Homo sapiens: one gene and its partners. The protein of the gene in region 1 purifies or fractionates together with the protein of each later gene. This does not show direct contact. Each region holds a gene or a part of one and is shown in the gene's direction. Other genes may lie near its edges. The genes, in order: RAB3IL1, AMOT, EIF1AX, AMOTL1, PPIL4, MB21D2 and ATG4C.

Region 1 (3,500 bases):
AGGTACACCGGCTGGGCGCGGGAACAACTTGGGGAATGGGTCATCTGGGCGTCCGTTGGCTCCTCACCACTCACGCAGGGACTGCCTTCTTCCTAGGAAGCTCACAAGATGGTTCGAGAAGCCAACATGAAGCAGGCGGCATCAGAAAAGCAGCTGAAGGAGGCTCGGGGCAAGGTGAGGCCCATCCCCGCCTGCCCAGGCCAGCCCAGGCACCCCCCCTGCCTCCCGGCTCAGCGAGCACTGAGCTTTGCTGCCCGAGTGGACGCTCACCTGGCCCGGTGGGGCCAGCAGGAATGGGTGAACCTAGGCCCAGGGAGGGAAGGGAAGGGTGGGGGTCTGAGATCACAGGGCCCAGTGTCCCGGGGCTCCATCAGTGATTCTGCTGCATGGCAGAGCCTTTTCTGGGATAGTGCTGGGGCTGGGAGGACCCTGTGATTATTGTACCTTCTTCCCTCTCCTCCCAGCCCCACTTTACAAAGCAGAAACCTCACTCAGTATGGCTGTCTGAGCCTGGGCAAGTCGCTTCCTCTCTCCAAGCCTGGTTGCCCATCTGCAAAATGTGAGGCCTGGGCCTTTCCTGGCTCCTGGGGGCGGTCCCAGAACTCTCATGGGAGGCCCAGCCAGCTCCCAGACACTTGTTCCTAACAGAATCCTGCTCACAGAGTGACCTTGGGCAGGCCATGTCGCCTCTGTGAGCCTCAGTTTCCCTATGTGTAAAACGAGTGTCTGGGTCTCTGCCTCGAAGGCTGTTCTGAGGGCGTCGGGTGGGACTAAGTGCCTGTCACTGCAGGGGTGCATTGTCCTGAGTTAGGCTGATAGGCGGTGGCAGCCAGGATGGCATCCAGTCTGGGTGAGGGTTGACAGCCATCCCATCCCATGCAGATCGACATGCTGCAGGCAGAGGTGACAGCCTTGAAGACGCTGGTCATCACGTCCACACCAGCCTCTCCCAACCGCGAGCTTCACCCCCAGCTGCTGAGCCCCACCAAGGCCGGGCCCCGAAAGGGCCACTCTCGCCACAAGAGCACCAGCAGCACCCTCTGCCCCGCCGTGTGTCCCGCTGCGGGACACACCCTCACCCCAGACAGAGAGGGCAAGGAGGTGAGGGTGGGAAGCGGGCTCTGGGCACGGGGAAGGGTGGCAGTGCCTGCGGTAGGCAGGGTCCGAGCCCAGTGAGGACCAGCCTGCCCCATGCTGTGTGACCTGGAGCCTGTCCTGCGCCTCTCTGGGATGTGAGGGCTGGGCAGGTCCTTTCTCTCCAACCTCCTGTGATCTGAGGCACTTGGCCTGCAGCCTCCAGGGTATACCATCTGGGGACCTGAGGCCCCCTCCCTGCCCCACTGACTCCAAGCAGTAGGTAGTGGTCTCTGCACCTGAGGCTGGCTTTGGCCCTGAGGATCTGGGGCCTCCACTGAGACACACACTTCCTTGGCCTTAAGAGGCCAAGCAGCAGCCACTGGGCCTCAGGGGAGAGGCTGCCTGGACCCCGTGTGGCCACAGCCTCGAGCCCCAGGACCACCTGGTGACAGCCCTGTGCTCAAGGGGTTTCTGGCACCCTCTGACTGTGGGGCTGAGACAAGCGTGGCCTTTGGAGAGGTGTCTCCGTCCCACCTCAGCTGGCCACACCAGTTGCTGGGCCCAGGCTGGGCTGACACTCATGGTCATGGGTCTGTAGGCAAATGAGGCCACCTGTCAGCACCTCAGCTTTCTCACCTGATAAATGGGGCCTCCCGGGGCTGCTGGAGGAACCAGAGACAGGGACATCAAGAGCTGAGTTCAAGGCTGCACCCAGGTAGTGCCTCAGAGGGCTGTGGTGCCTTCAGCTTCCTGGGTCCCTGGCGCCAGCCCACTCGACTCCATCCTGGCTTCCACCTCTGTCTCCAGGGCCTCCAGGGAAGACGAGCAGGCCCTCATCCACCTCCTGAGCTCTGAGCTTCTGAATGTACATTAACTTCTCCCCTTCCTCCTGTTCTGTCTCTGTGCACCTGTCTACCTGTCTGTCTGTCTGTCTGTCTGTCCATCCGGCCCAGCCCGGGCTGGCCCCGCTGCTCTCCCTGCTCCTCTGCGTGGTCCCCAGCAAGGCGGTTCACCTCACCTACGAGCCGGCCTGGCCGCTCCCACCTGGGGAGCCCCCAGCCCCTGCCTCCACTCCCTCTCCCTCCTTTTCCCGACAGGTAAATGGCTCCAAAGAGGGGCCTCCCACTTTGCCCCCTCCCAGCCTCCCTCATTCTGCATGTGGCCTGGAGCAGGCCAGCAGTCACCTCTGAGGTGTGGGCCCAGGGCAGCCTGTGTGTGTCCCCTCCTGTGTGCACGTGCTTGTGTGTGCTTGTGTACCTGCTGGTACCTGTGGCCTCCTGCTAGTTGCTCTTTGACTTTTCCTCCTCAAGGAGGCACTGAGGGTCTTCAGGACAAAGCCCTGCACCCCACTCTAAAATCCAGTAGCGCCAAGAAATTTAACACCGGCCTGGAAACAAAACTTTTAGTTCTAAATTCTTTGGTGCAAAGGGCAGAAGGGAGCTCTGCTGCTGCTGGACTTGGCTTCCCTGCACGGCTGCTGGGGATCGACCTGCTGGCTTGCTGGGCCTGCCCCACGTCCTCCCTCGCTCCCCTTCAGCTCAGCCTGCATCTTCTATGCTGGCCCCAGTACCCTGACCGCCCCCACCCTCGCTTGCCCTCCCCCACAGGTGGACACAATCCTGTTTGCAGAGTTCCAGGCCTGGAGGGAATCCCCCACCCTGGACAAGACCTGCCCCTTCCTGGAAAGGGTGTACCGAGAGGACGTGGGCCCCTGCCTGGACTTCACAATGCAGGAGGTGAGGCATGGCAGGGGCGGGGCCAGCTGGGGGACACACCCCTCCGCCAGGGCCCAGCCCCTTACCACCCTGCCTGCCTCCCTGGTCTGCCACAGCTCTCGGTGCTGGTACGGGCCGCCGTGGAGGACAACACGCTCACCATTGAGCCGGTGGCTTCGCAGACGCTGCCCACAGTGAAGGTGGCCGAGGTTGACTGTAGCAGCACCAAGTAAGCTGAGGGTCTTAGCTCCTTCCTGCCCATGTGGGAAAGCCCCGCCAAGCCGTGTGTTTACTGTGCCGAGGGGTGGTCAGGATGCAGCAGCGCCGACAGGACAGGGACAGTTGCTGCCCCCACAGGGCAAGGAGGCAGTTTGGCAGGTTTCCTGTGGACCCCCAGGCTTTCCAGAGAGGCCGGGAGCTAGGGTCTGCCTCTTCCTGACTGGTCTGCTCTGTGCCCTCCCCTTCTTTTCTTGAACCATGATTATCAGTTGCTGGCTGTGCCCCTGCCAATAAATAACGACGCAGTAGCCCTGGCATTTGTCCTCCAGCTACTCACCTGGCATTGAGCAGGGGAGCAGCAGAACAAAATAGCCAGGGTGGAGCAAGGGGCAGAAATTGGGGAGGATTTCACCTTGGCAGCCAAGAGCCTGGCTGGGGATGGCTGGTGCCCTGGTGGGAGGCTCATCACGGAGAGGGAGCATTTGAGCC
Region 2 (3,500 bases), on another chromosome or scaffold:
AAGTCCTTCTCTTATTAAGCCAAGGAGCATCCAAAATGGAGACTATGAAAATGATTTTTTAAAAAGATGTTTCAGAGCCTTATGAGATCAGAGAAAAAGATTTGCATCGAGGCAGGGATCATTACTGTCTGGTGCAAGCCAAGCTCTCTTCACCTTTTATTTATTTGAGTCTTTATTTTGCATTTTGTAGCTGCCTTCATATGCTGAGCTGCTTTACAAATCCTGTTATGGGGTAACTTTCCCCACTGTCCTGCCCCCACCTCCACAGCCATAAGATTTGGGTTTTTGCTTTAAATAGAATACAGAGAGATGAAGCCTGTGAATATGGACCTTGAAAAGTTACCCCCTTTGATTACCCTAGTTGACTGTTCCAGGTTTCTCAAGCATTCTTAGGAGTTAAGTCCAGATTGAATATTTAACTCATGCTAAAAGTGAAAGAGAAAACCTAGAGCTCTTATGCCTCCATGTTCTTCATCATATCAGTGCTAGGGCCTGGAATCCCCAACAATCTATTAATTTTAGAGTCAATTCTCTACTTTGTTTCTGCAATCGAATCCTCACCCTCCAATATCCATTTTCTTTCCCTTTAGAGGACTGATTTATCCATCAACTGGGTGTTAAGCTTCCTGTTTCCCCTTCCCAGGTCAAGGGCAGCCCAGGTGCCCAATTTCTCTCTCTCTTCACAAGGCACCACCAGCAATAGAGATGAGAAATTCTGAAGAACAGCCAAGTGGAGGGACCACGGTATTGCAGCGTTTGCTACAAGAGCAGCTTCGCTATGGCAATCCTAGTGAGAATCGCAGCCTGCTTGCCATACACCAGCAAGCCACAGGGAATGGCCCTCCTTTCCCCAGTGGCAGTGGGAACCCGGGCCCTCAGAGTGATGTGTTGAGTCCCCAAGACCACCACCAACAGCTTGTGGCTCATGCTGCTCGACAAGAACCCCAGGGGCAGGAAATCCAGTCAGAAAACCTCATCATGGAGAAGCAGCTGTCTCCTCGAATGCAAAATAATGAAGAACTCCCGACCTATGAAGAAGCCAAGGTCCAGTCCCAGTACTTTCGGGGCCAACAGCATGCCAGTGTTGGAGCTGCCTTCTATGTCACTGGAGTCACCAACCAGAAGATGAGGACTGAGGGACGCCCATCAGTTCAGCGGCTCAATCCTGGAAAGATGCACCAAGATGAGGGACTCAGAGACCTTAAGCAAGGGCATGTCCGTTCCTTGAGTGAACGACTAATGCAGATGTCACTGGCCACCAGTGGAGTTAAGGCCCATCCACCTGTTACCAGTGCTCCCCTCTCCCCACCACAACCCAATGACCTCTACAAGAATCCCACAAGTTCCAGTGAATTCTACAAGGCCCAAGGGCCACTTCCTAACCAGCATAGCCTGAAGGGCATGGAACACCGAGGCCCCCCACCAGAATATCCCTTCAAGGGCATGCCACCCCAATCTGTAGTGTGCAAGCCCCAAGAGCCAGGGCACTTCTATAGTGAGCATCGCCTGAACCAGCCAGGGAGAACAGAGGGGCAACTGATGAGGTATCAGCATCCCCCTGAGTATGGAGCAGCCAGGTAAGAGAGTTCTGTTTCTGTCATTTCCTGACCTCATCCCCAACCAGCTTCTGCTGTGTGTTGGGAATCTTAGGGAAGGAACGGGCAGGTGTTTGATATAACAAACTCTGCAATGCATGACAGGCCTCTGGCTTCGTGAATTGCCTGCCAACCCGAATTTGTATCCTCTTTAGCCATAATTAGCACTGTATTAACAATCCCTTAGCTTTGTAGGTTGAGCATGGCCTCAACTGCCTAGTGGACGAACAGGAGCAAAAGTCTTGTTTTCAGCAGCTATTTGCTGTCCTCTCTCCTAGGATGTTGAAGGGGTCTGTGTTTCTCATAAGCCCTCCTTGAGAGGTAGAAGCAAATTACCTTGCACTTTAATTAGTCTGGAACATCCTATCACTTGCACATATTCCCCTCCATGAAGCTTTCATCATTTATTTTTGCAAACAAATCTGTGTATTTCTTGTCAGTTACCATTTTTCCATAGAATTACCATTATTCTTTTGGACTAAACAAACACCCAGATGTTATGGTGGGGGAGCTATGTATGTATGTAGGTTCAGAATGTTACTTGCCTTATGCTTGCAGTTTATGAAATCTGGACTGTTGTATCTTTTTTTTGTAGAGAATTTATTAGTTGCCTGTCACATTTTTAAACCTCTGAGTTAAATTCCCATCACATCATATAGAAATTTTGGTCAGATGCTAAAATACAGAAGGAAAAATATTACCATTTCTGTCTTATATATTTAGTTGTTCCTATATATACTTCTTAATTATTCAGAGGTCCATTGTCCCACTGCTATATTCACTAGACCTTATGATTCTATGATTCTGTTCATTGTTCCTGTTGTTAGTATTTGGGCCATGTCTCTGATCAGTAGTATTTCCACATATAGGGCAGGAGAAAAGGTTTAAACCATGGGGACCGATGGTGGCATTTAAGTGTGGTATCCTGCCTCATGGCCATGAGTAATGATGGGTGACCATCAGGTTTGAAGTGCTTGGTCCTAGGCTGGCCTTCATTTATATGCGGCTCACAGACTAGGTCTGTGATGTCCTTTGATGTCTACCTCTTTGTCTCCTGTACCCTACTTGCTCATTTTGGAAAAAACCTTCTGGCTTGAAGTTCATTGAGTGACTCAGGAGAGAAGGCAGTCATGGGGTGGAGTAGGGTGAAAGTGAGAGAAGGCACCTAGCATTTCCTGGTATTTCTTTTTTTTCCCCTGCAGGTCCTGTTTTTGTAGCCAGAGGCAATTCACTTTGGACTCCACCTCTAACTTTGCCAGTTTAGGATTTTTTTTTTTTTTTCCCTCTTAACCCAGGTTGATTTCCTAACCCTTTTCAACCTCCTCTGTGCAGCTTTCAAAGGGCAGGAGCCTATGTTCTGATCAGTGTCTTGGAACAGGAAATGGGGTAACCAACAAGGCTACTCAGGTTTAAAAGAGATCAAGAACCAGATTCCCATCTGACCAATGAAACAGAAGACCCAGGGAGGGGTTGGTCTGTTCAAGACTGCCTCACTTAGTGGAAACCCATTCAAGCCAGCAAAATATCAATGAAGCTGGGGGTTTTTATTTTGCTTTTCCCATCAGTATGGAAGAGTCTGTTGATGGGCTGATGTCTGTTGCCTTGTGGGAGGGGAGTGTGTTGGCTGGGGTGTGGAGCAGAAGCCACAGCCCCACTCAGCACACAGCCCGCCTTCCCAGGAAAGCTATTTTCAGAACTCATTCACCAGTATTGTTTGTGATCTGAAATGACTCCCACAGTGTTTGAAGCTAGATGGAAAATTATCTGCCCTTTGATCTGCCTAAATAAATAATGAGGAGCCCAAAGAGGTTTTCTTTTTTTTTCCTTTTCTTCCCATCCTGATTAAACCACCGGAGAAATTTAGCTGCATGTATTTTACAGGAAGATACATATTTTTTATCCTCC
Region 3 (3,500 bases), on another chromosome or scaffold:
TGCCTGTAGTCTCAGCTACTTGGGAGGCCAAGACGGGAGGATTGCTTGAGTCCAAGAGTTCAAGGATGCAGTGACCTATGATCATGCCACTATACTCGAGCCTGAGTGACAAAGTGAGACCTTGTCTCAAAAAAAATTAAAAAAAAAAAAAAAAAAAAACCATGAAGCAAGGGCAAGTAATTAGGTACAGTTACTGATTTTGTTTGTTTGTTTTGAAATGGAGTCTCACTCTTTTGCCCAGGCTGGAGTGCAGTGGTGCAGTCTTGGCTCACTGCAACCTCTGCCTCCCAGGTTCAAGCGATTCTCAGCCTCCAAAGCAGCTGAGATTACAGGCATGCACCACCATGCCCGGCTAATTTTGTAGTTTTAGTAGAGACGGGGTTTCACCATGTTGGTCAGGCTAGTCTCAAACTCCTGACCTCAGATGATCCACCCACCTCTGCCTACCAAAGTGCTCGGATTTCAGGCGTGAACCACCATGCCCGGCCTCATTACTGATTTTTATTAAAAAGTTATATTTCCATTTTATCGTTGTATAATAGTATCCCATAGGATTTTTTAAAAGCAACATTTCTTGGTTTTCACCCTTCCAAATACAAAAGTAATGAATTCTTAACGCAGAAAACCTAAAAATAAGTCCCTTATAACCTCATCAAAGGGGAAATGTACTTGACATACTGTTCTGTAGGCCTGCATTTTCACTTGGCAGTTATTATTTTTGGCTCTGTTGTATCTTAAGAAAAAACATAATTTTGTTATATTTTACTTAAGCATGAAAGTCCTGCTGAAATTACTTAGCATTTCTGATCTAAGAAATGTTAATGTATATAGGAATAGGACTAGCGCTTCCTGGTTCATTTTCATTGCTTAGGGGTAATCATGATTTGACCAGATCTTTCTGATTGATGAGTCTATCTGATGATTAGTGAACCAGCTATTCTTAAGGAAATACGTTGTTACCATATTTCCTTGTATGTTGAGAAGTATACCTGAAAGTTATAATAGCTTCAGAATTAGTGTAATTAGGGCCTTCCTTACTAAAAATACCTTTGCAAACAAAAGAAAATGGTAACACAGATACTCCCATCTTGACTTAGCAGTGACACTGCAGGAATTTTTTTTCATAAAATATTCTTTATAGTTATTGTCTTATATAAAAGGAATGCTCTTATGATGAAACTTTGAGTAAATTACAGTGCTGACTTATGAGTATTTCTTACTGTGTCCTTAGCTAAAATCAATGAAACTGATACATTTGGTCCTGGAGATGATGATGAAATTCAGTTTGATGACATTGGAGATGATGATGAAGATATTGATGACGTAAGTAGATGTACCTTGTGTTTTCCAATTTTTGTTATTATCCATGGAGAAACCAACTTTCCCCTAACATCCATTAATTTTAAGAACATGGGACACTTAAATAAGGTTGTATTTTGAGAATTGTCTGAATTAAATAATATTATTTAGAAGACACCTGGTCAAACTGTTTATATTTTGAGAATTCTTTTTTTTTTTTTTTTTTTTTTTTTTTTTGTGATGGAGTTTTGTTCTGTCACCCAGGCTGGAGTGCAGTGGTACAATCTCAGCTCACTGCAATCTCTGCCTCCTGGGTTCAAGCGATTCTCCTGCCTCAGCCTCCTGAATAGCTGGGACTACAGGCGCGTGCCACCACGCCTGGCTAATTTTTTGTATTTTTAGTAGAGACGAGGTTTCACCACGTTGGCCAGGCTGGTCTCGAACTCCTGACCTCCGGTGATCTGCCCTCCTCGGCCTCCCAAAGTGCTGGGGTTGCAGGCGTGAGCCACCATGCCCGGCCCTATTTTGAGAATTCTTATAACCCTCTTCAATTTCTCTTCCTGAAAAGGTCAGTGTTTGCATTGGCAATATTAACGCCAGCCACTCTAATCATAACTTGTTTAATTAAGAGTCTCTAAAGAGATAGCCATTAAGAAATTTAGTGGACAGTTGAAAAATAGATCTTATCAAAGGAACATGCCTTTTTAATTGAAATATTAGTGTGTTGAAAGAATCTTGTTTGAACCAGCTTGATATGAAGCATTGGAATTACAACATACACTGAAAGCCTTGTCAAAATGGAAGCCTATTGCCAATTATGGTATTTTTAGCTGTTGGGTGTGTACTGTTGGCAAACTCTTGGTTTGCAGTTGGTATGTTTATTTTGAGGAAAATGGATTGTCTTTCCTAATAATAAAGTAGTAATGCCCATAAGTGTAAATGCTTTACTGCACTTCTGCTGTTACTGTAATTGAATGAAATTCAAACTTAATCTTTTGGCAGTATAAATTTATTTAGTGATTAGGGTGTTACTCTTAAATCTGTTTTGGGCTCTTCTTTTCAAACCTCTTTTAACTAAAATGTAGTTCAGAAACCACCTGTGTATTTCAACCCAAAAACAATAATAAGTCAGATGTGGTGGTATGCACCCATAGTCCCAGCTACTCAGGAGACTGATAGGGGAGGATCACCTGAGCCCAGGAGTTCAAGACCAGCCTGGGTAACATAGCCAGACTTTGTCTCTACATAAATAACATAATAACGTTAAATTTGATGCAAAGATGGAATTTCGGAATACCTAGAGCAGTTGTTCCTGACCAAGAATACTCACACTGTGAGTTAAATTACTAATATTATAGACATTTTAACATGTACACAAAAATAGGAAGTGAGAAATAAACATGTTGTTCTGTTATTTTCTTAATTTTGGAGACCCTGAGCCAAGAGGAGTCTTACGACTAAACTGTTACTAATATTTTGACAATAGAATTAACAATTCTATTCTTTGGTAAATAAGAGCTTGCAGCTGACATGTGGATTAAGCGCCAACCCAAACATTTTGACATCTGAGCAGGGGTAGAAGGCCTCTTTAAAAAAAAAAAAAAATTAAGGAACCTAACCAGAGAACATGCATGGATATGAAGCCGCATGCACCAAGATAATGGGTTGAGAATCTAGGCGTGGTCAAGATTTTCTCAGTAAAAATTTCTGGATCTGGGCCAACGCCTCCTCAGAACTGGACCCAGCTGGCTGGCTGGAAAAGGGATGGTAAAGAGTGATTATTAAAGGAGTTCTCTTGAACATTTTGTAAAAGTTGGCTCTGTCACCTGAGAACCCTACTCTTTGAGACATTTCTCCAGGTGGTTTATAGATGTTTTAACTATAACCAGATTGACTCAGGAGAATTAGGTCAGTATCACACTGAACGGGATCAATCATATCATGCTTCCTGTGTCTGCTCCCATCCATGAGATACAAAAATCTCAAATTACAAGCATTAAAGGAAGGAGACAGTAAATTTTATTAAGAATATTTTGCATAACATGTAACATTACAAAGGAGATCATCACGATTTACTTATAGCAGGCCAGAATTATAGGAATTTCTTCTTCAAACTGGATTTGTTTCTCACATAGCCTAAGGAGGTGAAAGTCTCCCTTATATATGGAGTAGACTGTTGGAATATAAGAATTCTTTTTCCT
Region 4 (3,500 bases), about 33 Mb from region 1:
TTTTCATTAATTTTGGCAGGTTCTTATGACTCAGAATTTAGTAGGTAATAAAATCCTCGAAAAGCAAGGGGTAGTGTGGAGGTCAAGTAAAGGGAGATATTTGATTACAAGGTTTGTTGGAAATAGTCTGAGGTTGTTGTGGTTTTATGTTTTGTTTTGTTTTTTTGTTTGCCTAGTGATTTTTTTAAAGTTAATTTTGTTGGCTTGGCTTTGTTTTGTCTTGAAGGAGAGGTACAATGTAAATCTTGGCCATTGTGGGTAGGGCAGTCCTCTACTTTTGCTGGAAGGAAGCCACTCCTGCTCTTGGTTTATGTGTTGGCATCAAGCTGAGTTCTACTTTAACTTGTGAGGCCCTTGGCTCTGCTCTCACGGCCAGGCCTTGTGTAACCTTAGGGTATATTCATTTTGGACACTCAGGACAGGACTCCTGGACTCCTAAAGGGGCTCACACATCAGGCATTTTCCCCCCATCTTTTAGGAGAGAGTAGGAGAGTAGCTCTAAGGTGTTGGAAATGTATCCCTGTTAAGATACTGAAGAATTAGATTTAAGTTTTCAAAAACTGTCGTTCTATGGTGTGTGTTTAAACCTGTGTTTGAGACCTCACTGGCCAATATTGCAGCTATATACCTCTATTTTTTCATTTTGTTTTTAAGTAAAATGTCTGCTGTTTACTTTTAACTTTTCGTTTTGAAATGATCATAGCTTCATAGGAAGTTGCAAAAATAGTAGAGAGGTCCTGTGTACCCTTCACCCAGTTTCCCCCATTGGTAACATCTTACATAACCATAGTACAGTAGCAGAACCAGGAAATTGACATTGGTACAGTCCACAGAGCATATTCAGATTTCACCAGTTTTACATGCACATGTAAAATTTGTATTTCTATGTGTGTACTTCTATGCATTTTTTCATGTGTAGATTCATGTAACCGCTACCACAATCAAGGTACAGACTATTTTATTACCCCAATGATCTCCCTTATGCTACACCTCTATAGTTGCACTGGCCCTCTTCTCCCCATCCTCACTCTGTTGCTAAATGCTTAGCAACCACTACTCCTGTTCACCATATCTATAATTTTATCATTTTGAGAATGTTACATAAATACAATCATGTAGTATGTGAGCTTTTGAGATTGGCTTTTCACTCAGCATAATGCCATGGGGATCCATCCAAATTTTTGCATCTCTCAATAGTTTGTTTCTTTTCATTGCTGAGTAGTATTCCATAATATGGATGTACTATGGTTTGTTTAACCATTCACCTATGGGTTTTTTCCAGTTCATGACTATTTCACATAAAGTTTTTATGAACATTTATATATAGGTGTTTGTGTGAACATAAGTTTTCATTTCTCTGGCGTAAATGCCCATGATTGTGATTGCTGGATTGTATGGTAAGTGTGTGTTTAGTTTTTTAAGAAATTGCCAAACTTTTCCAGAGTGGCTGCACCACTCCTATTAGCAATGTATGAGAGATCCAGTTTCTCTGCAACCTCACTAGCATTTGATGTTATCACTATTTTTTATTTTAGTTGTCCTAATAGGTGTTCTAGTAGGTGCTCTAATCTTACCATGGTTTTAATTTGCATTACCCTAATGGCTGATTATGTTTAATGTCTGTCTTTTTTATGTGCTTATTTGCTATCCATATATCCTCTTTGGCGAAATAACTATTCATGCCTTTTGCCCATTCCCTAACTGGATTATTTATTTTACTTTAGAGCTTTAAGAGTTCTTTATATATTCTAGATGCAAGTCCTTAGTCAGATTTGTGGCTTGCACATATATTTTCCCAAGTATGTAGCATGTCTTTTTATGTCCTTACCAAGGTCTTTTGCAGATCAAAAGTTTTTTATTTTGATAAAGTCCAGTTGATAGATTCCTTTTTTCTTTAAGGATGGTGCATTTAGTGTCACATCTAAGAACATTTTGCCTAGACCCATGTCTCAGACATTTTCTGCTGTGTTTTCTTCTAAAAGTTTTATAGTTTTACATTTTATTTTTAAGTTATAGTTCACTTTTGTCTGTCTTAAGAGTTTGTATGTCTTGCTGCTGAGCTTATAAACCATCTATTAGGTCTCGAATATGCACAGATGGACTATCAGGTGTAGTTCCCATTCTGAAGTGCTCACAGATTAGGGGTGTGGCATGTGGACATTACCATGTGTTACTACTATGATGGGGACACATGTGATGTACTGTGGGTGCTCTGAGGAGAGAGGGCTCACTTTGGTCCAGGCGGTCAGGGAGGGCTTCCCTGGGCATGCTGCCCAACCATGGTGGGAATAAAATTGGTTTGCTTTTGATCCAGTTTTTAGATCTTTATTGCCATGAATTCTTTAGAGTGTGTTACTCTGATTCTTGAGCACATGCTGATTGAGTTGGCATAAACTGAGTGGTTGAGGACCTTTTTGAACAGTACATGGCATGATAGCTTAAAAGAAGGTGAAAACACAGTACTTAAAACTCAGTAACATAAACAGTATGAATGAAGTTGAATAGATTAAGAGTTATGTATATGTTAAAATGAAAAAGGAGAGGTAGTATTTTGGATTGAGAACAGGTGTATCCTGGCCCTGCCGCCTCCTTGCTGTGTGACCTCGGAATTGTACATGCTGAAGCCTCATGAGTAAAATGGGGAAAATAATAGTTCTTCCCTCATGGAGCTGCATGAGGGCAAAGTGAAGCAATGCGCACAATGCTGGGCACGTTGAAAGCATTCAATAAATACCTGCTACCATTATTATTACTAAAACAGCAGAGAAGCAAAACACTTTATAATGTTACGTAAATTCGCATGTATCCGTCTTCTTTGAGAACCTGGAACCCCTGTTCTTACTCATGGAAGTGTTCCTTTTCACAGTTGGGAGCGCTGTGAATACTACTTAGTGAATGAGATAGAAGCTAGGATGCCCTATTCACAATCTATTACTATCTATAAAATAAACCTTTCTTTGCTTCTATAAAAGTATGATTTCTGATGAAAGAATGATTTCCTCTGTGCCCTTGAGCACAGGAGGCAGGAGGAGGTGGGTCTGCATTCAGAAGGCTAGTTCAGAGTTTATGGTGCTTGGTACTGTAGGTGCAGTAAGTCAGGGCTGATGTCACCAGGCCGTGTCTCAAATTTCATAACTGGCAGCTCTGTTTCCTTCTTGATGACCAAGTTGTTTACTTCTCAGAGGAAATTAATTGGGTCTTAGATGTACAATTCCAGGACAGTTGTTCTCAAATGTGATTGAGCATCAGAATACCCCAGAGGGTTTATTGAAACATGGATTGCTGGGCCGCACCCCTAGAGTTTCTGTTTCCTTGGTTGATTGAGGATAGGGCCTAAGACTTTGCATTTCTAACACGTTTCCAAGCAATGCTGATGCTGCTGGTACTGGAAACACATGTTAAGAATGACCATTTTAAAACATAGCCCCTTTAAATTGGGCCTGGACTGAGATGCTTACCCTTTGGAATGGAGTTTGTTCATCTATAAGTAATTGAGTTTG
Region 5 (3,500 bases), on another chromosome or scaffold:
AAAATGTGAGCCAGAAACATGAAGTGAGCCTATGCTGTTGGGAAAATGGCACCAATAGACTTACTCAATACACGGTTGCCAGAAATCCTTAATTGTAAAAAATGCAGTATCTGCAAAGTGCAATAAAATGAGGTATGCCAGTATAAGCTTTGTACTTTTTACTTAGTTTTGGTAACAAGTGTCTAAGAATTGGTGCAGTAAATGTGGACTCTTAACTTTCATGTATTTTTTTGTCAGTCTGTAACTGATTTCAGTTTGAGTTATGTATTATTTTTATGGTATTTATTATGTGTCCTTCTTTATAGTTTCTTATCACCACAGGAGAAAATCTAGATTATCTTGATGGTGTCCATACGGTGTTTGGTGAGGTGACAGAAGGCATGGACATAATTAAGAAAATTAATGAGACCTTTGTTGACAAGGACTTTGTACCATATCAGGATATCAGGTATGGTTACAATTTGCTATCTGAATGTACTAGAATGTTTTAATATTGAGATGTTTAACACGTAGTGGTATGGATAGGAACGGTATGCATAGGACTGGTTTCTGGATAATTCTAATCCCAAAAGGTGAATTAATATAAGACTGTAAGAATCTTTATAATAAAAAGGACTTTTTGTATTTTTATACTTGTACTAATTATTTATAATTATGTTTGGAGGAATTATTTATTTATTTATTTTTTGAGACGGAGTCTCATGCTGTTGCCCAGGCTGGAGTGCAGTGGCGCGATCTTGGCTCACTGCAAGCTCTGTCTCCCGGGTTCACACCATTCTCCTGCCTTAGCCTCCCAAGTAGCTAGGACTACAGGCGCCCGCCACCACACCTGGCTAATTTTTTGTATTTTTAGTAGAGACGGGGTTTCACCATGTTAGCCAGGATGGTCACGATCTCCTGACCTCATGATCCACCCACCTCAGCCTCCTGAAGTGTTGGGATTACAGGAATGAGCCACTGCACCCAGCTGGAGGAATTGTTAATGCTTTAATTTAGTTTTTTAATTGAGAAGTAGGGCAAAAGTACTAAGATTTAGACAGTTATATTAGTTTACATCTTAAAGTAATGCAGGGTGATAAATATGGTATCACTCAATGCAAAACAGTAACACTCATTGTGAAAGTATATCTAGGTTAGTAATATCCATATGCAATATGGGTTTTTTTTGGCCTTAGAGATAATCAAGTAATTTTTTGTAATCTATTAAAATAAAATAGGATTCTGAAATAACTTCAATGTATAACATTTGATTTGGATTTATTTTGTAAGGATAAATCATACGGTGATTTTAGATGATCCATTTGATGACCCTCCTGATTTATTAATCCCTGATCGATCACCAGAACCTACAAGGGAACAATTAGATGTAAGTAAAGCCCTCTTATGATTAAATGTACATTCATATTAATGATTTGTATGGATTTATCTTTTTCATCTGTTAAAGTTAATTTTTTCCGAATTATTATCTTGCTTAATTATATTCAACAAGTTTGGAGTTCTTTTTCTTTTCCACAGAGGTACTCATTTTTCTAGCTGTCTTCTCATTTCTCTAATTTCCTTTCTTCAGTTTCTTTTCTACTGAGACAACCTCAGCTCTAGAAGCTTACATGAACACCTTGGGAAAGTGTTTTTCTTGTCATCAAATTAAACTGTTATCTTGTGAGGTAACTTTTCAACTGGGGACACTCTGGAGCCAGGCTAGAACCCAGAAATTTCTGTGAAACAGCGCAGACTGTTCCCCCACATATTTTAAGGTTTATGTGGCTTCCTGAAAGCTGAATTTGTCTTTATGGTTGGGATTGGTGCTTAATTGTCAGATCATTTCTCTTCATTCAGCAGTTAGAATTGGATAATAAATAGTGTCCATATAAATATTTATTTATTTTTTTGAGATGGAGTCTCACTTTGTTGCCTAGGCTGGAGTGCGTGGTGGGATCTCGGCTCATTGTGGCCTCTGCCTTCCTCATTCAAGCAATTCTCGTGCCTCAGCCTCTTGAGTTGCTGGGATTGTAGGTGCATGCCACCACGCCCAGCTAATTTTTGTATTTTTAGTAGAGACAGGGTTTCACTGTGTTGGCCAGGCTGGTCTCGAACTCCTGACCTCAAGTGATCCACCTGCGTGTTCTCCCAAAGTGCTGGGATTACAGGCACGAGCCACCATGCCTGGCCTATTTTGATTTTAACAGAAGCCCACTTTGGCTAATATTTTAGAATTAATATAAATCAATTCTTGGAGGTTTATAAGTTTGTCTCAGTTGCTGTCCAATTAATTATTAAAAATTTTTTTTTAGAGACAAGATCTCACTGTGTCACCCAGCTGGAGTGCAGTGGTGTGATTGTAGCTCACTGCAACCTTGATCAGTTACTGTTTTAGCATGTTTGATATAACTAAGAATAAAGTATGTCTTCTATGTTTCTCAGATTTTTTTATTCTTTAAATATATACATGAGTAACTTCTGTCTTAACAGAGTGGTCGAATAGGAGCAGATGAAGAAATTGATGATTTCAAAGGAAGATCAGCTGAGGAAGTAGAAGAAATAAAGGCAGAAAAAGAGGCTAAAACTCAGGCTATACTTTTGGAGATGGTAAGATAATTATCTTTGTTCAAATTGTTCTGTAATATATCTAATAATACTTACTGAGTGTTTATTTCTGGCTCTTCAGTAGTCTTAAAATGTTAAAAATTGAGTTATGATTTTTTTCTGATTTAAATTTGGTATGGCATAGTAATAAATTGGCTCTACTGTGAAAATAAATTTGACTCTACTGTCAATATAGTGCTAAGTGCCTTTTTAAACAGTGGGAAGTGGATCTCTAACTTATTAATTGAATTTCAGTTGTTTAATATTCATCTCATTCTTAAAGAGTGTTTAGCAGGCTGAATTTTATGTATATTAAAGAATAGTTCTTCACTGTACCACTCAAGTGTTAAGATTAAACAGAATGGTAGTTGTAGGGCAAAATAATGGGTGGAAACTGAGCACTCTAAAATATACTGCTTCTCTGTATTACTAACAACCTGAAGTCATTTGGGGAATAATAATTCAGTAGATGATTAATTGACCTACTTGGTATTATTTTCCATTTCTTATTTTTGTAGAATAGGCATACCTGTCATATCATAGATAATAAATATTGGAATGAATGGATAATAAAGTTACTATTTTATATAATAGAACTTTCAGATTTGTAGTCTGTTTTAAAGTTTATTTATTTATTATTTTATAGAGACAGGGTCTCACTCTGTTGTTCAGGCTGGAGTACAGTGGTGTATGATCATAGCTTGCTGCAGCTTCCAACTCCTCAGCTTAAGCAATGCCCTTGCCTCAGCCTCCTGAGTTGCTGAGACCACAGTCACACACCACAATGCCCTGCTAATTTTAAAATTTTTTTTGTAGAGACAGGATCTCCCTATGTTGGCCAGGCTTAAGTTTATATTACCATCAACTGTCTGAATGAACAAATAGTAAAGGCTGTATAGTTCAAGAAAGCTTTACTG
Region 6 (3,500 bases), on another chromosome or scaffold:
AGAGACAAAAAGGCATAGTGAGTGAGACAAGGGTGTTTACTATGTCACAGGTTTTAATAGGACTTTACTGTATCATTTAATCATCACCATTACACTTTGAGGTTAAAAAAAAAAAACTGTGGTGAACCCTAGAATTAGAAAAATATAGGAATTCATCCAAGTTTACCAGCAAGTGAGTGGCATAGGTGGGACTTAACCTGGGTCAGGATGAATACAAAACCCTGGCTTTTAACAAGGACAATATTCTGCACTCAGGACCAAGAGACCCAGATTTTACCTCTGAATCTCCAGTTATTAACATTTGCTGTGTGACGTTGGGCAAGTCACTCAGACTTTAAGCCTCAGTTTCTAAATATATAAGTTGGGCTTAATCATTATATGTACTTCATGTGTTCAGGTGCATTCAATTCTGAATCTGAAAGTTTTTATATAGTAAGAGAAAAGGGAATTTCTGAGTTCTTGTACCAGCTCTGTTTTGTACTATGTGGTATGTGTTTTACCCTAAGTCTCCTAACCTATGTTGGGCCTAATTCTGCCCGTTTTCCAATGATAGAAAATGCAAAGGAAAAAGTAAAATCACTCCTAAACTTGAATCACCATTAATATTTTGATGCACATTTCTTCTAAACATCTGTGTTATACATATGCTTATACCCAGACATATGTGTACATTTACATAACAGGGATGGTATGGGATCCATGCTCTTTTATTAGGAGTAAATTTATCAATATGCTGTCCTCTACATTTTAAAGAGGAGCTATAAGTTGAAACTTGTAGAATGATGTTTTCCTAGCTTCTTTCATTCATCTCTTTTTATTCCAAAGAAGATGCATTTCTAGAACTTAGAGCACATTCTGTTATTTATGTATATATGTATGAATGACAGGTCTCACTCTGTTGCCCAGGCTGGAGTGCAATGATGCCATCACGGCTCACTGTAGCCTTGACCTCTTGGGCTCAAGCGATCCTCCTACCTCAGCATCCCAAGTACCTGGGACCACAGGAGAGCACAGCCATGCCTAGTTAATTTTTAAATTTTTTTTTTTTTTTTTTTTTTGTAGAGATGGTGGTCTTGTTGCCCAGGCTGGTCTTGAACTCTTGGGCTCAAGTGATTCTCCCACCTTGGCCTCCCAAAGTGTTGGGATTACAGGCATGAGCTACCACGCCCCACCTCTATTCTATTATTTAATAATTGGGAGTAATGAATTCTCACATTGGTGACCTCCGAGGATTTTACCTACCTTATTTGCCATCTTCTGAGGATTTTACCTACCTTTCCATGCCGCCTCCTGTCTCTGCATGTTCTACATTGTCATGTAACATACACCCCAATTTCTCACTTTCTTTCTTTGCTTAGGCTCTTAGGCTCTTTTCTCTCTCTCTCTCTCTTTCTTTTTTTTTTTTTTTTTTTTTTTTTTTGAGACAGAGTCTTGCTCTGTCACTCAGGCTGGAGAGCAGTGGCCGATCTCAATCTTGGCTCACTGCAACCTCCGCTTCCCGGGTTCCAGTGATTCTCCTGCCTCAGCCTCTGGAGTAGCTGGGATTACAGGTGCGTGCCACCATGCCTAGCTAATTTTTTGTATTTTTAGTAGAGATGGGGTTTCGCCATGTTGGCCAGGCTGGTCTTGAACTCCTGACCTCGAGTGATGCACCCACCTCGGCCTTCCAAAGTGCTGGGATTACAGGCGTGAGCCACCGTGTCTGGCCGAGGCTCTTCATCAGAGTTCCCTAACCTGGGTCCATGGAAACAGCATGGAACCTGTGAACTTGAGTGGGGAAAAAAGGACATCTTTATTTGTATTAACCTCTAACTTAAATATAGCATTTTCTTTCATTATAAATATAGATGGGAAACCATAGTGTTATTAGTGGTTCGTATGTTTTTGTTGCCAATAGAAATCCCAGGCATTTTTATTTCACATTACAGTTGTTGCAGATATCTCAAAAAATGTTTACTGCTGCTTTGAAATTATGGTGGATATTAGACTTGCTGCTAGATTTTATTATTTAAGGCACTAATAATCACATAGGGTACTCTATCACAAATTTACTTTAAAAAGGCATTTATTATTATTTTTTTATTTTTTATTTTTTTTTTTTGAGACAGAGTCTCGCTCTGTCACCCAGGCTGGAGTGCAGTGGTGCGATCTCGGCTCACTGCAAGCTCCGCCTCCCGGGTTCACACCATTCTCCTGCCTCAGCCTCCCGAGTAGCTGGGACTACAGGCGCCCGCCACCATGCTTGGCTAATTTTTTTGTATTTTTAGTAGAGACTGGGTTTCACTGTGTTGGCCAGGATGGTCTCGATCTCCCGACCTCGTGATCTGCCTGCCTTGGCCTCCCAAAGTGCTGGGATTACAGGCGTGAGCCACCGTGCCCGGCCGCATTTTGTATTTTAATACTGATTTTCTTGGAAATCCTGTGTGATGTTATCATATTCACTTAAATATGCTATTCTCTGCAGGGATCTATAGGCTTCTACAGTCTGTCGAGAGGATCCATGTCACAGAAACAATTAAATGTCCCAGGTTCTACAGATGACCTTCTGACACCTTATGTCCGCTTTATTTTTTTCTCCCAGCTCAAATGCCACTTGACTCATGAAGCCTTCCTATATGTCTTTGAGAAGAAGAAAATTTGGCCCGGCGTGGTGGCTCATGCCTGTAATCCCAGCACTTTGGGAGGCCGAGGAGGGCGGATCACGAGGTCAGGAGATCGAGACCATCCTGGCCAACACGGTGAAACCTCGTCTCTACTAAAAAAAAAATACGAAACATTAGCTGGGCGTGGTGGTGGGCGTCTGTCATCCCAGCTGCTGTAGTCTCAGCTACTTGGGAGGCTGAGGCAGGAGAATGGCGTGAACCCAGGAGGCGGAGCTTGCAGTGAGCCTAGATCGCGTCACTGTACTCCAGCCTGGGCGACAGAGGGAGACTCTGTCTCAAAAAAAAAAAAAAAAAGAAGAAAATTTACCTTTCCTGTGTTTCCTCCTAATACCTGGTCCCTTTTGTGGCCCTTAGCCTGTTCTTTCCCATGCTTTAAAGAATACCTGGCTTATTTATCTTTGCAGCACCCAGGGGGTCATGCACATAGTAGGTGCTCACTAAGTGTGATGTGACTTGAGTCACTCTTTAAAAGAGCTCTTCCCAGTGAAGCTTTTTATTGCAGTCTCTGAGAAATTAGCACTTTCTAACCTTGTCTCTTTATGATTTTTAAAAATCCATTGAGTTATACTTTATCATTTTCTGGAGTCCAGAAAATTTTGATCTTATCTCCTTATGTGGCAGAGGGATGTAGGGCAAGTTTTTCTACATTCCTTAAGACCTATCCTAGGGCAATATAAGAAATGTCCATAGTGATTGCTGTAGCTTGTTGACTGGGAACAGCAAACTGCAACTCATGACTCATAGGGATGTTCCCTTCCTTGTGGACCCCGGTGTTTCTTCACAGGCATGTGAGGGTACTTCCGGACCTCTGGCATGCCCATACTCAGGGCTTTTCAG
Region 7 (3,500 bases), on another chromosome or scaffold:
AGCTAGGTTTAAATGTATCATGTCATTATTTGCTTTCTATTTGTTAAATCTTTTTTTTTTGTTTTCTTTTCCTCCCTTTCTACCTGCTTTTGGATTGAGTATTTTTATCATTCTCTTTTATCTCTTTTGTTGTCTTATTAGCTATAACTTTTTATTGTTATTTTAGTGGTTTAAGGTTTATAGTATACATCTCTGACTTATCACAGTCTGCCTTCAAGTGATATACCAAGAGCCTTACAGTATACTTCACCTTCTCCCTCTTGGTCTTTATGATATTGTTGTCATACATTTTACTTATTTATATGTTATACACCCCACACATCTTACTTAATATGTTATCCACCCCATAGTAAATTACTATTATTTTGGTTTAAATAGTCAAATATCCTTCAAAGAAGGTATCATGTTTGGTGTTCTTCATTCCTTTGTGTGAATCTGTATTTCCATCTGGACCAGTGGTTTAATCATGGCTCAATGCAGCCTCAACCTCCTGGCTCCAGTGATCCTCATCCTCACACTTCAGCCTCGCAAGTATCTGCACCGCACCTGGTTAATTTTTATTTATTTTTAGAAATGAGGATCTCACTATGTTGCCCAGGCTGTAGTGCAGTGGCACGATCTTGGCTCACTGCAACCTCTGCCTCCTGAGTTCAAACGATTCCCTTGCCTCAGCCTCTCGAGTAGCTGGGACTACAGGTGCCTGCCACCATGCCTGGTTAATTTTTGTATTTTTAGTAGAGATGGGGTTTCACCATGTTGTCCAGGCTGGTCTTGAACTCCTGACCTCAAGTGATCCATCTGGCTCAGCCTCCCAAAGTGCTGAGATTACAGGCGTGAGCCACCGCGCCCAGCCAGAATCTTCCTGTTTTAGCCTCCCAAAGTGCTGGGGATTATAGATGTGAGCCACCATGCCTGGCTAAGGTTTCTTTTAATGCAGGTTGGCTAGTGATGTCTTCTTCCAGCTTTTGTGTATCTGAAAACGTCTTTATTTTGCCTTTATTTTTGAAAGGTGTTTTTGCTGCATATAGGATTCTGAGTTAATGATTTTTTTTCTTCACTACTTTGAAGATGTTGCTGCACTATCTTCTTCTTTTGTTTCCAGTGAGAAATCTAATATCGTCCTTGTCTGTGTCCCCTCTTCAAAGAGTTAATTATGTATAGAATATAGGATATTATTATTAATAACAAGAGTATTGTTGATAATACCTTATATTAGTTAACTCTACAGTATGTAAAACATTTCAGCATTCATTCTAACTTGATTTTCATAGGCAGTCAGGAAAATCTAACTTGATTTTCATATCTTTATTTTAAAAGATAAAATTAGAAAAAAAGGATTGGAAAGATTGTGACATACTTCACATCTTAAGACAGTAATGATAATGTTTGTTACCATTATAGACATTTCTCTGGTTATCTTTAGACCGTATGTTTATTTTTTAGATGAAGATAAAACGTTACCTGCAGAGTCGGGATGTACAATAGAGGATCACGTAATTGCAGGAAATGTAGAAGAATTTCGTAAAGATTTCATTTCTAGAATATGGCTGACCTACAGGGAAGAATTCCCTCAAATAGAAGGCTCAGCTTTGACAACAGACTGTGGGTGGGGCTGCACATTGAGAACTGGCCAGATGCTCTTGGCTCAAGGACTCATACTACACTTTCTTGGTAGAGGTAAATCAAATTTCTGTTTTTGTTTTGTTTTGTTTTGTTTTTTTGTCGTCGATATTTTTCCATTTGAATTCCAGCTTACAAACTGCATGAAATTCCCTGAGGTTAATTTCTTGACTGTGAGATTTTCTAAGGAGTTGTAACTAATTTGGTGTATTGCATTTTTTTTGAACTGGGTCAGATATGACTTATATGTAAACTTCCCTGATTCCCTTTTCAAAAATGCAGGTTAAATATACCTGTTATTCTTGGTCACCATTATGAGTTAAGTTAGTTCAATTTTTAGTACCCTTTGGATTTTATTGTTCTTACTGTTTCTTTCCTTTTGGTTGAACTCTGGATTATCTCCAGTTTAGTTAAGTCCTGGGCAGGTTAGTAACAGTGATTTTGAGGACATATGTAATATTTTTAAAATTTTAAGAGACTTTACTCTGGTTTCTTTATTTTCTCCCTACATGTCAATAATGGTTTAAAAGTATTTTTATCTTTATTAGTGTGATTATACTCAATTATATTAAATCAATTAGACATACTCTTTCAAATTAAAAACTTTTTTTAGCAATAGGGTCTCACTCTGTTGCTCAGGCTAGAGTGCAGTGATGTAATCATAGCTCATTGCAACTTCGAACTCCTGTGCTCAAGCTATTCTCCTGCCTCAGCTTCCTGAGTAGCTGGGACCACAGGTGCGTGCCACCATGGTTAGCTAATTTTTAAATTTTTTTGTAGAGATGTGGTCTCACTATGTTGCCCAGGCTAGTCTTGAACTCCTAGGCTCAAGTGATGCTCCCACCTTGTCCTGCCAAAATATTGGGATTACAGGTGTGAGCCACTGTGCCTGGCACTAGACATATTCCTAATAAGGTAATCATGCAGTTTTAGACCCTAAAAAATGTCATTGATACTTAACTTACATATATATGTTTTTCCTAATGTGCCACCTTTGTGTTAGTCCATTTTTAATAATGTGTACATTTGTAAGAATATTTTAGTTTACAATTTTAAGATATCATATTTGATTATTAAATATTGTCAGATTTTTATAAGTGTTAAGACAGTATCCCTACAATGCATGGCATATATTTAGTAACTTTTTTGTAGAGATTATTGATGAGATTATTTAGAGAGAATGTTTATTGAAGAATGGTGTTGAAAATGTAAGGAAAATAATTTTTAAACTGGTTTTCTGGGATGATTTATTTATAGTCTTGTGCAGTCATGGGCAAGGATTGGAATATTTTTCAGTCCTCACTAGATCTCTGAATCTATGACTTATTTTGTTAACTTAAAATTACATGCATGTTTGGGGATTGTCTTGTTATTCAAAACAGTGACATAATGGATATATTTGATTTTTCAAGGTCTTTGATCTTTTATGATTTCATTTATTAACTATTAGAGAATTGTTATTACTCTGTTAATAATGATTAAGTTATTCTGAAGAAACGTACAGGAAAATATTTTGAAAAAAATTTAAAACTTCCATGGTCAGACTTCTATTTTAACATATAATCAAAACATCCACTTTCTGAAGATATCTTCTTATGAGTATCATAAATGTTAGTAAATATGTTTATTGTGCCTTTGGGTAGTCAAGACTGGATGTTTGATAAGCAGTCTGATAATGAAATACAAAAGTCTTTATCTCAGCACTGTCAAAGAAGAGAAAAAAGAACATCTGGGATTGTCCATTTTTACCCAAGGTTACTATTTTTTCTTTCTTTTGTCTTGTATTTTTGTAATTTTTTTCTTGATTATATGAAATTTTGGAAACTACAGAAAAGTACAGAGAATAATACCATTAAGGTAGAAACATCATTGATATTTGG

What was found.
Region 2: the proteins of RAB3IL1 (region 1) and AMOT purify together in Homo sapiens (affinity purification with mass spectrometry; 3 studies listed by BioGRID and IntAct, with this or other methods). This does not show direct contact.
Region 3: the proteins of RAB3IL1 (region 1) and EIF1AX purify together in Homo sapiens (affinity purification with mass spectrometry, with the first as the bait; one large-scale study listed by BioGRID). This does not show direct contact.
Region 4: the proteins of RAB3IL1 (region 1) and AMOTL1 purify together in Homo sapiens (affinity purification with mass spectrometry, with the first as the bait; one large-scale study listed by BioGRID). This does not show direct contact.
Region 5: the proteins of RAB3IL1 (region 1) and PPIL4 purify together in Homo sapiens (affinity purification with mass spectrometry; 2 studies listed by BioGRID and IntAct, with this or other methods). This does not show direct contact.
Region 6: the proteins of RAB3IL1 (region 1) and MB21D2 purify together in Homo sapiens (affinity purification with mass spectrometry, with the first as the bait; one large-scale study listed by BioGRID). This does not show direct contact.
Region 7: the proteins of RAB3IL1 (region 1) and ATG4C purify together in Homo sapiens (affinity purification with mass spectrometry; 3 studies listed by BioGRID and IntAct, with this or other methods). This does not show direct contact.

Annotation. Positions count from the first base shown.
Region 1 is NC_000011.10:61,904,067-61,907,566, reverse strand, and holds part of RAB3IL1 (guanine nucleotide exchange factor for Rab-3A), read left to right. Parts: coding exon 1-2; intron 3-96; coding exon 97-174; intron 175-464; coding exon of another isoform or gene 465-559; intron 560-882; coding exon 883-1,101; intron 1,102-2,684; coding exon 2,685-2,813; intron 2,814-2,908; coding exon 2,909-3,021; intron 3,022-3,500. UniProt on the Homo sapiens protein: Guanine nucleotide exchange factor (GEF) which may activate RAB3A, a GTPase that regulates synaptic vesicle exocytosis. Promotes the exchange of GDP to GTP, converting inactive GDP-bound Rab proteins into their active GTP-bound form.
Region 2 is NC_000023.11:112,820,332-112,823,831, reverse strand, and holds part of AMOT (angiomotin), read left to right. Parts: intron 1-643; 5' UTR 644-705; coding exon 706-1,577; intron 1,578-3,500.
Region 3 is NC_000023.11:20,128,339-20,131,838, reverse strand, and holds part of EIF1AX (eukaryotic translation initiation factor 1A, X-chromosomal), read left to right. Parts: intron 1-1,231; coding exon 1,232-1,323; intron 1,324-3,500. UniProt on the Homo sapiens protein: Component of the 43S pre-initiation complex (43S PIC), which binds to the mRNA cap-proximal region, scans mRNA 5'-untranslated region, and locates the initiation codon. This protein enhances formation of the cap-proximal complex.
Region 4 is NC_000011.10:94,771,356-94,774,855, forward strand, and holds part of AMOTL1 (angiomotin-like protein 1), read left to right. Parts: intron 1-3,500. UniProt on the Homo sapiens protein: Inhibits the Wnt/beta-catenin signaling pathway, probably by recruiting CTNNB1 to recycling endosomes and hence preventing its translocation to the nucleus.
Region 5 is NC_000006.12:149,532,544-149,536,043, reverse strand, and holds part of PPIL4 (peptidyl-prolyl cis-trans isomerase-like 4), read left to right. Parts: intron 1-305; coding exon 306-448; intron 449-1,269; coding exon 1,270-1,366; intron 1,367-2,469; coding exon 2,470-2,586; intron 2,587-3,500. UniProt on the Homo sapiens protein: PPIases accelerate the folding of proteins. It catalyzes the cis-trans isomerization of proline imidic peptide bonds in oligopeptides.
Region 6 is NC_000003.12:192,907,857-192,911,356, reverse strand, and holds part of MB21D2 (nucleotidyltransferase MB21D2), read left to right. Parts: intron 1-3,500. UniProt on the Homo sapiens protein: Probable nucleotidyltransferase that catalyzes the formation of cyclic dinucleotide second messenger in response to some unknown stimulus.
Region 7 is NC_000001.11:62,815,132-62,818,631, forward strand, and holds part of ATG4C (cysteine protease ATG4C), read left to right. Parts: intron 1-1,443; coding exon 1,444-1,677; intron 1,678-3,500. UniProt on the Homo sapiens protein: Cysteine protease that plays a key role in autophagy by mediating both proteolytic activation and delipidation of ATG8 family proteins.